Regions from separate parts of the Homo sapiens genome. Here region 1 is linked to region 2. The links come from fine-mapping of genetic effects on gene expression. Tissue or cell type: monocytes. Region 2 holds a variant in brackets; the other region holds the start of a gene. All regions are shown on one strand. Distances are from middle to middle.

The links. PIP is the estimated chance that this variant, and not a neighbour inherited with it, causes the effect.
Region 1: GALNT11 starts here. The variant in region 2 is fine-mapped to the expression of GALNT11 in monocytes (Quach 2016, PIP 0.94).

The regions. Positions count from the first base shown.
Region 1 is chr7:152,021,370-152,029,474 of GRCh38, forward strand. It overlaps GALNT11 (polypeptide N-acetylgalactosaminyltransferase 11), which reads left to right and starts at 4,305. Exons shown (of 12, transcript NM_022087.4): 1 at 4,305-4,515. RefSeq lists silencers at 2,995-3,289, 4,140-4,839.
Region 2 is chr7:152,694,641-152,702,745 of GRCh38, forward strand. No RefSeq gene overlaps it. Among named protein-coding and RNA genes, the nearest start is that of XRCC2, 23 kb to the left of the region's middle. The variant C/CT (reference allele first, on the strand shown) is at 4,513.

The DNA of each region.
Region 1 (8,105 bases), 670 kb before region 2:
GTGAGCTACTGCGCCCGGCCGCAAATAACCCCTTTATACCTATCTATTTAGCAAAATACTGCATAAAATCTATTGCTAGACAGACATGAGCTGATCTATTACAGACAGCCACTTGATTGATCCTTTAAAAGGTTGATCTGGCAGCACAAAACGAGTGCCACGCTTGATTGTATTCTTGGCCCATATATTATTTATACCTTTCCTGCCTCTAGAAAGTCATTTAAAAATTAATCATAATAAACCCATGAGTCTACTAAAATTATGATAAAATGCAAAACAGGCCAGGCGCGGTGGCTCACGTCTGTAATCCCAGCACTTTGGGAGGCTGAGGCGGGTGGATCACGAGATCAGGAGTTTGAGATCAGCCTGGCCAACATGGTGAAACCCGGTCTCTACTAAAAATACAAAAAAATTAGCTGGGCATGGTGGCGCACGCCTGTAATCCTAGCTACTCAGGAGGCTGAGGCAGGAGAATTGCTTGAACCTGGGAGGCAGAGGTTGCAGTGAGCTGAGATTGCACCACTGCACTCTAGCCTGGGCGACGGAGTGAGACTCCGTCAGGAAAAAAAAAAAAAAAGCAAAACAGAACCCGGCTCAGTGGCACGTGCCTGTAATCCCAGCTATTTGGGAGGCACAAGAATCGCTTGAACATGGGAGGTGGAGGTTGCAGTGAGCCGAGACCAAGACCAAGATCACACCACTGCACTCCAGCCTGGGTGACAGAGACTGTCTCAAAAAACAAACAAACAAAAAGCAAAATAGAAATCTTGTAGCTGAAAAAATAAAAGAGAATTATAGTAGTATAAATATGGAGTATCTTCTTAAAGTAACAGTTTTTTTCTAGTTGAAATTTGAGAATATATATATGTTATATATAATTATTATATGTAATATATAAATGATATATATGTAACATTAAAAAGTATATTTTTTTTCTGGTAAGCATAAAGAATGGATGCTGTAAATATCAGCTTTCCCAAAAGCAAAAGACAGGAGTGTTCTCTTTTGTTAAAAGCCGTGGGCCTAATATTAAGTCTTAGTTTTGTAATGTAATTTAGTTTAGGTACTAGATAACACAGATAAGTCCTAGAAATTGTTCAGCATGTCCCTTGGACAGTATCTTCTTAAATATTGCTTCAGTTGACCCTAAAATAGAAAAGAAATCAGAATCAATATCCAAATATTTGGTGTGATTAAAGGGAAATTGATACTTGCCTATAGATGGCAATTTTTTGTTTTTGTGTGGAAATTTAAAAATCTGATTTGTATTTTGAAGCTAGTTGAAAAGTATCTGGTAACCTGCTTAGGGTTTCTTACAAAACAGTTTTTGGTATGATGGAATGCTCAAACAAGTCTGAAATTAAGCCCAGGAGTTCTGTAACTAAAACATCCTTCTAGGAATTTATCCCAAGACACACCTGTATGAAACAACAACTAAGAAGAGCTGACATTTGCTGAGCTTTTACTACGTTTCATACTCTGTTATAAGTAGTCTGCATGGATTATCTCCTTTCATTCATACAACAACTTTATGAGTTCTACTGCTATCCTCATTTCATAGATGAGAAAACGATGGTTAGAATGTGCCCAGGTTAACGTTGCCCTATTTGGCTAATAAAAATACAGGATGCCTGGTTAAACTTGAATTTCAAATAGACAATAACATTTTACTGTACATATGGCTACATTCTGAATGTGTCTTCCATAATTCATGTTGAAACAACTGACAAAGCAACAGCACTACAGTTTGAATACCTTTTATCCCCACCAAAATTCATGTTGAGGCTTGGACCCCAGGGTAACAGTGTTGAGACAGAGTAGGACCTTTAAGAGGCATTTGAGCCATGAGGGACCAGCCCCCCATGAAAAGATTAACGCAGTCACTGAGAGTTCCCAGTCTCTTGAGACTGGATTAGGTACCTTGAGAGCGGGTTGTTAATAAGTAACATTGCCCCTTTAGCCAGTGCGCGCTTCCTCTTCCGATTCTCTGCCACGTTATGATGTAGCACAAAGCCCTCACCAGCAGCCTACCAGATACGGCTGCTGGATCTTGTACTTCCCAGCCTCCAGGAGAGTGGGAAAACAAATTTGTTTTTAAACTACCTAGTCTCAGGTATTTTATTATGGCAGCACAGATGAAGACAAGCCTCTCACATATTGCACAGGATATACTTAAACCACAAAATTATTCTTAATCTGGAATTCAAATTTCAGGCCATCCTGTATTTCATCTGGCAACTGTATCCAAGGACAAACAATAACACGGCCCTTACATGATCCTAATCAGCGTGGCCTCAAAGATTGTGTTTAACCAGAATGATACGCTGAAAAGAGCATTTTAGTGTCATTCTGTATGATAGTGAAAAATTGGAGCTAACCCAAATCCTCAATTACGAGAATAATGGTTAAGTAATTATTGCACATTAATCAGGTAGAATAGTATTTAAAGTAATAAACAGATGCATCTCATACTCATCAGGTTGGCAAATATTTAAATATCTGATACTATCAAGGGTCAGGAGAAGATGAAACAATGGAAATTTACATGCCCTGATTAATCCTAGAGCATGATTTCAAATGTTAATTTGTGTATAAATCACCTGGAAATCTTGGTAAAAATGCAGATTTTAATTAAGTAGGTGGAGCACAAGACTCCCCATTTCTAACACACTCCAGGTGACGTTGGTGTCGCTTGTTGCTGGACCACCATTTGAGTAGTGAGGCCCTAAAGGTCTGGTCTTCAAACTCTTTTGCTTGAGTATATACTAAAATAATAAGGTTTAAATACAAGAACTTAGTATCCCCTTATACATATTTAAGGTGATATTTAACATTTTTCATTACTAGTTTAGGTAGTTGGAAGGATTACTTTCTGGAAACATATTTATGTATTTAAATAAACTTGTAATACACTTTTAAATATACCTAGTAGACTTTGCCCTAGTTTGCCTGCCACTGCTGTGAATAGTTTCTGAGGGGGATCCCAGCAGGATTGATCCCCAATGACGCTTATTTGATATTATACTATGTATATTTTACATGAGCTGCAACCATTGAAGGAAACTGGGCAAAGATACCTGTGTGCTGTCTGCACTGCCCTTGCAAGAGAAACCAGTACCTGAAATATCTGTCAATCTCCAATCAAGACACAAGCATGGTAGAAGGAGTCAAAAGCATTCAACTTGGCACCCAGCAGCAGTTCTCTTTGGCTGAGGGAAGTGGCCACAAGACTCAGCTGGGGGCCATCAGCGGCCTACACACCCAACAACTGGAGAAATGAGTCCTCAGTCCTTAAGGGGAAACCTGGGTGGTACAACATGGCATCCCCTACACCCTGACAACCCCATGGGGTATCTGTGGAAGAGGGGCTGGGGAATGTGGTTAGCTCAGTTCAGCTCAAGAAGGCCACTACTTTGGTTCAGGTGGTGCTCTTTAATTTATAGTAGCTGTAGAAGTTCCTCCATTGCTACGCGTGTACCCCATCAGACTTTAATTGTGAAGCAATGAGTTCTTTAAAAAAGTTCAAAAATATTCTTAACCAAGTGGGATTTATTTCAGAAATGCAAAGAAGATTAGTATTAAGATATTCTTCAATATAACTTGGCATTATTGGCCAAAGATGAATGCCCACACCATTTTTCTTAAAAATTGCCAATTCCCCTTTTATGGTATTTGTATACATTGCACTATTATCACCAAGGTATGAGTGTTTTTTTCACCACTTCTCTCTTTACACCTTAATCTACATTTTCTTCTATCACAAGTGGCGTTTAACTTCTTTTAATATGTTTAAGGGCATTTGTCTTTTTTTTTTTTTTTCACTTATGGGGTCTCGCTGTATTGCCCAGGCTGGAGGGCAGTGGCTATTCACAGGCGCGATCCCGCTACCGATCAGCACAGGAGTTTTGCCCTGCCCGGTTTCCGAGCTGGGCCAGTTCCCCACTCCTTGGGGAACCTGGTGGTCCCTGCTCCCGGGAGGTCACCACACCGATGCGGAACACAGATGCGTGTCGCCGCGCAATGGGCACAGCGCATACAGCGCAGAGCTCCCGGGCTCAAGCGCTGCTCCCGCCTCAGCCTCCGGAGTAGCCGGGGCCACAGGCAGGGCATTTGTCATTAATGGGGTCTTTTGAGACCGCGGGTGACAGACAACAGGAGCCAGGCCACGCGCGGCGCCTCTGCGCGAACGCTAGGGAGGACTCAGCGCGCGGCGGCCGGTGACGTCAGGGCAGCGAGAGGTTTCGTCACCGCGGCGCGGGGGCGGGGCCGCCTGTCACGCGGCGCCGGCGGACGCGCGGCGCTGGGCGGAGGCAGCGGCTCGGGGACTGGGCGAGGGCCCTGGGCCTGAGGAGGCGCGGCCGCCACTGCGCCCAGCGCCTGCGCGACGCCTGGCTGCTGGGCCCCGGGGCAGTTCAGCCCGCGCCGCTCCTGCGGGTCGGACTGGGGCTGTGGCGGGAGAGAAGATGCCGCAGCCCGAGTCCCAGAAGGCGGCGATCCTGGGCTGCGGGCAAGGCGGTGAGTACCCTCTAGGCGGCGGCCTCCCGGCGTCCCTCAGCACCTCGAGAGCTGCGGCGGCGGCGGCGCGCGGGGCCTGGGCAGGCTGGGGGCGGCGGCGGGGCAGCGCCTGGCTCCCCGCGGGTCCTGGGCTCCCGCACGCCCCCTGGGCGAGGCTCGTGTCTCCGGGAGACGCCGCTGCCCCCGCGCCTCCCCCAGCGTCTCCTGAGGCTTGTTCGCGGGCGTGGGGGCGAGGACCAGGGCGCTGGCCTCGTTTTCGCGTATTTAGGACGGAGGCACACCTGATCCTGCAGCCTCCCCCAGCATTTCCTAAAATGAAGTCCAGATCAGTATTGTCCACTTTTTAAAATTAAAAGTGCCCAGAAATAGAATAGTTCACACATACACAAAACTAGGGAGAATAGTGTGGAAGGAAATTTAATCTCGGGACCCCAAATCACTAAGCCAAAGTCAAGCTGGGAGCTGCGTCAGGCAAACCTGCCCCTAAGTTTTGTTCCTAAGACAGCTGCAAAGATAAAAAGCCACACAGCTCCCTCACCCTTTGGCCAGGAGGAAATTCGCTGTGGACCTCCACATCTTTACCCTGAAACAGTTGTGTGGAATTGCACCCTGGCAGTGTAAATTGACAGCTTGTCTTCGCAGGTGAGGAACAGGGACAGAACTCAAGTCATCCTTCTGCTCACCTGAGACAGATGCATGTCTGACGGCTTCCTCTGCCCTGTATTTATGTAAAAATGCAGATTCACTGAGCCAGACTAAGGCACAAGTGGCTATTCCTCTGCCTGCCCCATGGCGTAAATTGTGTGTTCAGTAAAAGGCAGAGCAGAGGCTCAAAAGAATGTAGCCGTTTGTCTCTCATCTTACCCATGACCTGGAAGCCGCCACTTTGAGTTGTCCCACCTTTCCTGCCCGAACTAGTCTATACCTGTATTTGATTGAAGACTCATGTTCCCCTACAATGTATAAAACTAGGCTGTGCCCCCACCACCTTGGGTACATGCTCTCAGGATCTCTTGAGGGCAGTGTCATGGGCCATAGACACTCATTTCGCTCAGAATAAATCTCTTTAAAAATTTTTTTATTAGCCGGGTGCGGTGGCTCACGCCTGTAATCCCAGCACTTTGGAAGGCCAAGGCGAGCGGATCACGAGGTCAGGAGATCAAGACCATCCTGGCTAACACGGTGAAATCCCGTCTCTACTAAAAATACAAAAAATAAGCCGGGCGTGGTGGCAGGCGCCTGTAATCCCAGCTACTTGGGAGGCTGAGGCAGGAGAATGGCGTGAATCGAGGAGGCAGAGCTTGCAGTGAGCCGAGATCACGCCACTGCACTCCATCCTGGGTGACAGAGCGAGACTCCATCTCAAAAAAATTTATTTTTAATTTTTGTGGGTACATAGTAGGCATATGTATTTATAGGTACATGAGATATTTGATATGGCATAGAATGCATAATCACATCAGGATAAGCAGGGTATCCATCTTCTCAAGCATTTATCCTTTGTTAGTGCTACAAACAACCTGCAAGGCTCTTGTATTGGTTTGAACCCCGATGACGCACCAACAACCCCCACGACATGAGGCGGTGTGGAGCAACATGCTGTTTTAATAAGCGCCTGGGTGCAGACGGGTTTATGCCTAAATGGCATCAGCCCCAAGTGAGGAATGGGTTTTATAATAGCATCAGCCCCAAGTGAGGAAGGGGTTTTATAGTCCTCTGTAAGCAGGAAGTGTCCCAGTCTGACGTGGCTGCTGCGTAAATGTGTCCGGAATTGGTTCCTTCCAGTGGATTCTTGGTCTCGCTGACTTCAAGAATGAAGCCACGGACTGTCGCGGTGAGTGTTACAGTTCTTAAAGATGGTATGTCGAGAGTTTGTTCCTTCTGATGTTCAGATGTGTCCAGAGTTTCTTCCTTCTGGTGGGTTCGTGGTCTTGCTGACTTCAGGGATGAAGCCGCAGACCTTTGCAGTGAGTGTTACAGCTCTTAAAGGTGGCACGTCTGGAGTTGTTTTTTCCTCCCAGTGGGTTCATGAGCTCACTGACTTCAGGAGTCAACCTGCAGACCTTCGCAGTGAGTGTTACAGGTCTTAAAGGTGGCATGTCGAGAGTTGTTTGTTCCTCGCAGTAGGTTTGTGGTCTCACTGACTTCAGGAGTGAAGCCACAGACCTTCACAGTCAGTGTTACAGCTCATAAAGTTAGTGCAGACCCAAAGAGTGAGCAGCAGCAAGATTTATTGCAAAGAATGAAAGAGCAAAGCTTCCACAGCATGGAAGGGGACCCGAGCAGGTTGCCGCTGCTGGCTCCAGTGGCCTGCTTTTATTCCCTTATTTGGCCCCACCCACATCCTGCTGATTGGTCCATTTTACAGAGAGCTGATTAGTCCATTTTAGAGTGCTGATTGCTCTGTTTTACAGAGTGCTGATTGGTCTGTTTTACAGAGTGCTAATTGGTCGGTTTTTACAGAGTGCTGATTGGTGCGTTTACAAACCTTTAGCTAGACACAGAGCGCTGATTGGTGCATTTACAATCCTTTAGCTAGACAGAAAAGTTCTCCAAGTCTGCTACCCAGTTAGCTAGTCACAGAGCACTGATTGGTGCATTTACAATCCTTTAGCTAGACTGAAAAGTTCTCCAAGTCCCCTACCCGATTAGCTAGACACAGAGCACTGATTGGTGTGTTTACAAACCTTTAGCTAGACACAGAGCCCTGATTGGTGCATTTACAATCCTTTAGACAGAGTAGTTCTCCAAGTCCCCACCCGACCCAGAAGCACAGCCAGCTTCACCTCTCAATCCCCCCCCTCTAAACAGGACACCCCAACTGCTGTTGGGAATTTGGCCAATGACTGCTGTAGCTACTTCCTGCTGGATAGGGGTGAAGAAGGGGCCCTGCAATTGTAGTGTCCTCCAGAGGGGAACTCTTTAGGCCAGTGAAAGGGCCAGCAGGTTGGTCCAGGGGTCCTGGTAGAAGTTTAGTTGAGCTCATTTGGAGTTCCATTTGTAAGACCATCTGTAGCTTGATGGTCTCAATTCTAGAGGAAACAAATTTGAAAAGGAGGTTAAAAATACAGGGCCCGAAGGCAAGTAATAGCAAGATGGCTGCCACAGGACCTAGAAAGGGGAGAAGCCATGTTGTCCAACTCCAGAGGTTGGTGTAAGAGTTTGAAAGGCGTCTGATTTCAGAAGCCTTTTCCTATAAATGTTGGGTGGCATCTCATACTATCCCTGACTGGTTAGTGTAAAAACAACACTCTTCCCCTAAGAAGGTGCAGAGTCCTCCTTTCTCAGCAGTGAGGAGGTCTAGGCCTCGGTGGTTTTGGAGAGTCATTGCTGCCAAAGAGTCTATTTGGAATTGTAGTTACTATCCTTACTGGATAGATTTTGTTATTTCTTGCAAACTCTCTTGAGAAATCCTTTGAGAGTGTGGTAGTAGGATAATGAAGTAGGTAAACTGGCTATTCCAGTTCCTGTAGCAGTGGCCATTTCTAACCCTATAGGTAGGGGTATTAGTTGTATGGCTCTGCACTGACGGACTTGAGCTTTGAGGGGTACTGATAGGGTCTGATTTCCACAAGATTAGAAGTTAGAAT
Region 2 (8,105 bases):
CATAATTTATACATTTAATTTTAATTACTGGTGGCAAAAGAGTATTCTTTGCCTTGTTTAAAGTATAACTGAGTTGGGAAGCTCATTTTTACCCATTTTACTCACTTTAGACTTGAAAGTATTTTTTATTCTTGCTAGTCTCCCAAGACCTCCTGTCAAACTGAAATATATAACTTTTTTTCATTTTTGATCTTCGCATTTGTAAGGGATAAATAATTGATTAGCATAGGAATTATGGGAATATATTTAGCTTATGCTCAGCACTAAACTATTTTTAAATGTCCTCAGGCATCAACCCAAAATGTACATCCAAAGGGTGTCAATTGGAAATTGGGAAATGGAGTGACAGTATAGATTAGAACGATGAAATGGCAAATGCAACCGGAGGAATAGCAGTTGTCAGTTTCACTGCAACTTCAACAGTCAGTCTACCTTGCTGTATTTTTAAAAATTCCTTAAATGGGTCGGGTGCGGTGGCTCACGCCTGTAATCCCAGCACTTTGGGAGGCCGAGGCAGGCTGATCACCTGAGGTCAGGAGTTTGAGACCAGCCTGACTAACATGGTAAAACCCCGTCTCTACTAAAAATACAAAAATTAGCTGGGTGTAGTGGCAGGTGCCTGTATTCCCAGCTACTCGAGAGACTGAAGCAGGAGAATTGCTTGGACCCAGAAGGCAGAGGTTGCAGTGAGCCGAGATCGCACCTTGGCACTCCAGCCTGGGAGACAGAGTGAGACTCTATCTGAAAAAAAAAAAAAAATCCCTAAATGTCTCTCTGATAAGACTATAACCTCAGGTCAGGCGTGGTGGATCATGCCTCTAATCCCAGCACTTTGGGAGGCCGTGGCAGGCGGATCACGAGGTCAGAGGTTCGAGGCCAGCCTGGCCAACACGGTGAAACCCGTCTCTACTAAAGATACAAAAAATTAGCCGGGCGTGGTGGTGGGCGCCTGTAATCTCAGCTACTCAGGAGGCTGAGGCAGGAGAATCATTTGAACCCGGGAGGCAGAGGTTGCAGTGGGCAAAAAAAAAAGACTATAACCTCTTTGAGAGCAGAATCTTCCCTTCTAATTTCACAAAATTGTGTTGAAAGCAGAAACTTCAGACCAGGTACAGTGGTTCATGCCTGTAATCTCAGCACTTTGGGAGGCTGAGGGGGGCGGATCACTTGAGGACAGGAGTTTGAGACCAGCCTGGCCAACATGGTGGAACCCCATCTCTACTGAAAGTACAAAAATTAGCCAGGGGTGGTGGCATGTGCCTGTAATCCCAGCTACTGGGGAGGCTGAGGAAGGAGAATTACTTGAACCCAGGAGGCAGAGGTTGCAGTGAACACAGATCATGCCACTGCACTCCAGCCTGGGCCACAGGAGCAAGACCCCATTTCCAAAAAAAAAAAAAAAAAAAAAAGCAGAAACTTCAAAATGAATTGAAGAAAAAGTAAAATTTTAAAAACTTTATTTTAATATAAGATCACTTAACATGAGAGCTACGCTCCTAATACATTCTAAGTGGATAGGGTACTGGATAGGGTACTGTTAACTATAGGGACAATGTTGCACAGCAGATCTCCAGAACTCACTCAGCCCCCATCATCAAAACTTTATGCCTGTTAATTAGCTGCTCCCCATTCCCCCTCCGCCAGCTCTTGGCAGCCATCATTCTACTCTCTGATTCTTTGAGTTTGACTATTTTAGATGTCTCATATGCATGTAGTCATGCAGTATTTGTCCTTCTGTGACTAGCTTAATTCACTTAGCATAATGTTCTCCAGTTTTGTCCATGTCCTTGCATATTGCAGGATTTCCTTTTGTTTTAAGGCTCCACGATATTGCATTGTATGTATATACCACCCTTGCTTTATCCACTCATCCATCCATGGACATTTAGGTTGCTTCCATAGCATTGCTATTCTGAATAATGCTACAGTGAACACTGGATTAGGGTTGATTTCTAAATATATAAAGAACTCCTACAATTCAATAGCAAAGCAAAAACAGCAAATAACCTGGTTTTACAAAGTATATGGGACATGAACTCAAATATGAAGAAATTTTTTTTTTTTTTTTGATACGAAGTTTTGCTCTTGTCGCCCAGGCTGGAGTGCAATGGCACGATCTCGGCTCACTGCAACTCCAGCCTGGGCAACAAAGTGAAATTCTGTCTCAAAAAAAAACAAAAAACAAAAAAACAAAAAACCCAGTCTCTACTAAAAATACAAAAATTAGCCGGGTATGGTGGTGTGTTCCTGTAGTTCCAGCTACTGGGGACGCTGAGGCAGGAGAATCGCTTGAACCAGGGAGGCGGAAGTTGCAGTGAGCTGAGATCGTGCCATTGGACACTAGCCTTAGGCAACAAGACTGAAACTCGGTCTCAAAAACAATAAAGAATGAATGTGTTGAATATTGAATGGAATAAGAATGAACTAGAGCCCATCTTCCAACCATCTCAAGGCCTATGTTAAATTAACACTGGACTTGCCAGTGTCCCCAGGCTCCTGCGAAAACCATATGTAGATCTTCTCTAGCAAAAGATAACATCATGGCCGGGTGCTGTGGCTCACGCCTGTAATCCCAGCACTTTGGGAGGCCAAGGTGGGTGGATCACGAGGTCAGGAGTTTGAGACCATGCTGGCCAACATAGTGAAACTCCATCTCTAGTAGAGAGACGACAAAAATTTTGTCTCTAGTAGAGAGACAAAAAATTAGCCTGGTGTGGTGGTGTGTACCTGTAATCCCAGCTACCTGGGAGGCTGAGGCAGGAGAAACACTTGAACCCAGGAGGCAGAGGTTGCAGTTAGCCAAGATGGCGCAATTGCACTCCAGCCCAGGCAATAGTGTGAGACTCCACCTCAAAAAAAAAAAAAAAAAAAAAAAAGATAACATCATAGTGGAGCTGCCTGCCAGCCCCAGTGCAGGATCCACTGGGTGAAGCCAGCTGGGATCCTGAGTCTGGTGGGGACGTGGAGAACCTTTATGTCTAGCTCAGGGATTGTAAATACGTCAATCGGCACTCTGTATCTAGCTCAAGGTTTGTAAACACACCAATCAGCACCCTCTGTCTAGCTCAGGGTTTGTGAATGCACCAGTCGACACTCTGTATCTAGCTAATCTGGTGGGGACGTGGAGAACATTTGTGTCTAGCTCAGGGATTGTAAAGGCACCAATCAGCGCCCTGTCAAAACAGACCACTTGGCTCTACCAATCAGCAGGATGTGGGTGGGGCCAGATAAGAGAATAAAAGCAGGCTGCCCGAGCCAGCAGTAGCAACCCGCTCGGGTCCCCTTCCACACTGTGGAAGCTTTGTTCTTTCGCTCTTTGCAATAAATCCTGCTGCTGCTCACTCTTTGGGTCCACACTGCCTTTATGAGCTGTAACACTCACCGCGAAGGTCTGCAGCTTCACTCCTGAAGACAGCGAGACCACGAACCCACCAGGAGGAACGAACAACTCCAGACAAGCTGCCTTAAAAGCTGTTAACACTCACCGTGAGGGTTCACGGCTTCATTCTTGAAGTCAGTGAGACCAAGAACCCACCAATTCCGGACACAATAGTAGACTCAAGTTATTTCTTCAATACTTAAGACAATTATTATTTCTACTTACTTTACTCCTCATGAACCTATTTATTTATTTATTTTTGAGACAGAGTCTCACTTTGTCGCCTAAGCTGGAGTGCAATGGAGCGATCTTGGCTCACTGCAACCTCCGCCTCCCAGGTTCAAGTGACTCTCGTGCCTCAGTCCCCCGAGTAGCTGGGACTACAGGTGTCCTGACCTCAAGTGATCCACCGGTCTCAGCTTCCCAAAGTGCTGCGATTACAGGCGCCTGGCCTTCCTATTTACTTTTCATTGTGTGCAAGACATTCTGTAAAAATGTAAAAATAAAAAATAAATAGGCTCATGAGGAGTCAAATAAGTAGAAGTAATAATTGCCTTAATTATTGAAGAAATAATTTGAGTCTACTCTGATGTTACCTTTTGCTAGGGAAGATCTACATATGCTTTTGTCAGGAGCCTGGGGACACTGGTAATTCCAGTGTTAATCTAATATAGGCCTTGAGATGGTTGGAAGCTGGGCTTTAGTTCACCCTTATTCCTAGGGTCTAGCCCTTGAGTTTCCCAACCCAAAGCATGATTTTTTTCCCCCAAGATTTCCTCTCATTTGTAGGTCCTCCTCACCAGGCTGTTGAAACATCTGCTCAGCTTCTCAATCTTTCGAGACCTCATTAAACGCCCTGGGAGAACAGTAGCCCTAAAGCTGGGCTCATCTTCTTGGATTTACTTCTGTGGATCTCAGTCCTGTAACTCTTTAATTCTTTATTGTGTTGTGAGCTCCCCCAATGCCTTAAAGCAAATTATTCTTAGATTTTCTGCTGCCTTGCAGTTGTTTTCAGTGGAAGGGTGGTTCCTCATTATCTAGTCTGCCATTTTCAGAGATATCAAGCTCAATCCTTATGAAAATTTTATTCTTACCAAACAAGCTAATAGTAAATAAACAAAATACAGGGTTGC[C/CT]TTTTTTTTTTTAATGTCACTTTCTGTTTCTTTAGTCATTGGTGAAGATGCTATTAAAGTACTTTCTAAATAACTGAGAAGCAAGGCAGATGGCCAAGCAAGATAAAGGAAAAGATCAGGTTAATTCACAAACTGTGTATTCAGCCTGAACAATGGAGATAAAAGAGATATTCCCCAAATTAGACTGAGCAGACATCCTCCTTTTTAAAGGGCAATCCCATTTTCAGTATTTATGTCTTATTTGTTCCCTGAGGCAAATGTCTCTTTATGCAAAGCATAAAGTAATCAGGTATTTCATCAGGTAGGAAAGAACTTGTTTTTTACTCCCTCTGTGACCTGGAGTTGTGCACAGCATATGTCACATCAGGGGTGTCAGCAGCACCAAGTTGAAGATTCAAGCAAGACAGGTGACCTTATAAAAAGGACTGTGAAGAGTTAGGCATCAAAACAAAACACAGCATTCTAAGCCTGGGCCACAGTAACTCAGCCAAAGTGGGCATGAGCTAAGGAGGCAAGATGGCATTGGCCATCACCAGAGGTCAGCAGACCTGGACAGGGCCACAGCAGCTGGAAGGAGCTTGGTGAGACACTGTAGCTGGGGCAGTCTGCTTTCATCTCCTTGTCCAGTGCCAGCCTCTTTCTCAATGGGACCAGCCCAAAGGAATGCAAGGGAAGGGGATTTCACACTGGCTTCTGTGGGCAAAGAGGGAAGTGGAGTTTTTTTTTTTTTCTTTTTTTTTGAGACAGAGTCTTGCTCTGTCGCCCAGGCTGGAGTGCAGTGGTGCAATCTCGGCTCACTGCAGCCTCGGGAAGTGGAATTTGATACCTCTCCTAACAGGTAATTGCAGCCTCCAGAAGCCAAAGCCAGGGTGGCATTTCCCCAGAGTGGATCCTATGTCTCTCCCTGGCTTGACAACTGCTTCAGGACAGGGATAATGTTTGTTGGTAAGATCTGCTATGGTGCTGATTTGAAACTGAAAAAGGGATTAAATGCACAAGCAGAAAAGCATAAGGAAAAAACCAACACAGGGTCGCGCCTTCTCTCCTGCCTCGGTCCAACAAGCACTGCTCATCCAGCATTGCTGTGCTCCTGAGAGGAGAAGGCCCTTTTCTCCCCTCCTCTGGAAGGAAACGGGGCAGAACAAGACAACCTCACTTCCCTTGCCTCTCTCGCCTCTTCTGCCTCTACCTAATAACCTACGAATAGCATCTCTAAATTAATAGGGAACTTAGTGATACCATCAGGACCCCATCCTTACTCAAAGTAGGAATTCCTTTTAAAAATTTGCGTCTCCTGGGCCGGGCGCGGTGGCTCACGCCTGTAATCCCAGCACTTTGGGAGTCCGAGGTGGGCGGATCACGAGGTCAGGAGATCGAGACCATCCTGGCTAACACGGTGAAACCCCGTCTCTACTAAAAATACAAAAAAAAATTAGCCGGGCATGGTGGTGGGCGCCTGTAGTCCCAGCTACTCGGGAGGCTGAGGCAACAGAATGGCGTGAACCTGGGAGGCAGAGCTTGCAGTGAGCCGAGATCATGCCACTGCACTCCAGCCTGGGCGACAGGGCAAGACTCCCTCTCAAAAAAAAAAAAAAAAGAAAAATTTGGGCCTCCTGGTTGACAAGACCCTGTTTAAGTGCTGTCAAAGTCAGAAAAACTGTTAGGACATTCCTTTATTTTTGTTTTATTGTATATTAAAATACACGCAGAGCCTGGCATGGTGGCTCACGCCTGTAATTCCAGCACTTTGGGGGGCTGAGGCAGGCGGATCAATTGAGGTCAGGAGTTCGAGACCAGCCTGGCCAACATGGTGAAACCCCTTCTCTACTAAAAATACAAAAAAATTAGCTGGGCCTGGTGGCACGTGCCTGTAATCTCAACTACTCAGGAAGCTGAGGCAGGAGGATCACTTGAACCCGGGAGGCAGAGGTTGCAGTGAGTCGAGATCGCGCCACCACACTTCAGTCTGGTAGACAGAGCAAGACCCTGTCTCAAAATAAATAAATAAATAAGGCCGGGCGTGGTGGCTCACGCCTGTAATCCCAGCACTTTGAGAGGCCGAGGCGGGTGGATCATCTGAGGTCAAGAGTTCCAGACCAGCCTGGCCAACATGGGGAAACCCAGTCTCTACTACAATACAAAAAAATTAGCCGGGTGTGGCCAGGCGCGGTGGCTCATGCCTGTAATCCCATCACTCTGGGAGGCAGAGGCGGGCAGATCACGAGGTTAGGAGTTCGAGACCAGCCTGGCCAATATGATGAAACCCCGTCTCTACTAAAAATACAAAAATTAGCCAGGCCTAGTGGTGCGTGCCTGTAGTCCCAGCTACTCAGGAAGCTGAGGCAGAAGAATCGCTTGAACCTGGGAGGTGGAGGTTGCAGTAAGCCAAGATCACATCACTGCACTCCAGACTGGGCAACAGAGTGGGACTCTGTCTCAAAAAAAAGAAAAAGAAAAAAGAAAAAATATATATACGTAAAATAAAATAAAATAAAATAAAATAAAATACATGCAGAACAAAAGAGTGTGCTGGGCGGGCCATTCCCCACCCTTCTTCAGTCTCCCTGTGGCAACCATTGTCAGGTTCTGTGTGTGTGTGTGTGTGTGTGTGTGTGTGTGTGTGTGTGTTTGAGATGGAGTCTCGCTCTGTCGCCCAGGCTGGAGTGCAGTGGCGCCATCTCGGCTCACTGCAAGCTCCACCTCCTGGGTTCACGCCATTCTCCTACCTCAGCCTCCCGAGTAGCTGGGACTACAGGCGCCCGCCACCATGCCCAGCTAATTTTTTGTATTTTTTTAGTAGAGACAGAGTTTCACCATGTTAGCCAGGATGGTCTCAATCTCCCGACCTCGAGATCCGCCTGCCTCGGCCTCCCAAAGTGCTGGGATTACAGGCGTGAGCCCCTGCGCCCAGCCTCCATGTGTTTTTAATAGGAGGGTTTTGTACACGTGGAATATGATAAAACACACTTCCTTCAACCAGCACCACACATATATTTTTATACAAAATGACAATAGGCTGGGCATGGTGGCTAACACAGTACATCAGGAGGCCAAGGAGGGAGGACACTTGAGGCCAGGAGATCATACCAGCCTGGGCAACATTGCAAGACCTCATCTCTACAAAAAATAAAATAAATTAGCCAGGCATGGTGTCACGCATCTGTAGTCCCAGCTACCCAGGAGACTGAGGATGGCTTCAGCCCAGGAGTTCAAGGCTGCCGTGAGCTATGATCACACCACTGCCCTCCAGCCTGGGTGACAGTTCGAGATCCTGTCCCAAACAACAGCAACAATAAAAATGACAACATAATTGTGGATCAAATTCCATTTTTTTTTCTTTTGAGATAAGGTCTCACTCTGTCACCCAGGCTGGAGTGCAGTGGTCTCAGCTCACTGCAGCCTCAAGCTCCCCAGCCTCAGGTGATCCTCCCATCTCAGCTTCCTGAGTAGCTGGGACTGCAGGTGTGTGCCACCATGCCCAGCTAATTTTTGCATTTTTTTATAGAGAGAGGGTTTCATCATGTTGCCCAGGCTAGTATTAAATTTCATTTTGAGCACTCAAATTGACAGAAAGTTGTACCTAAAATTGAACT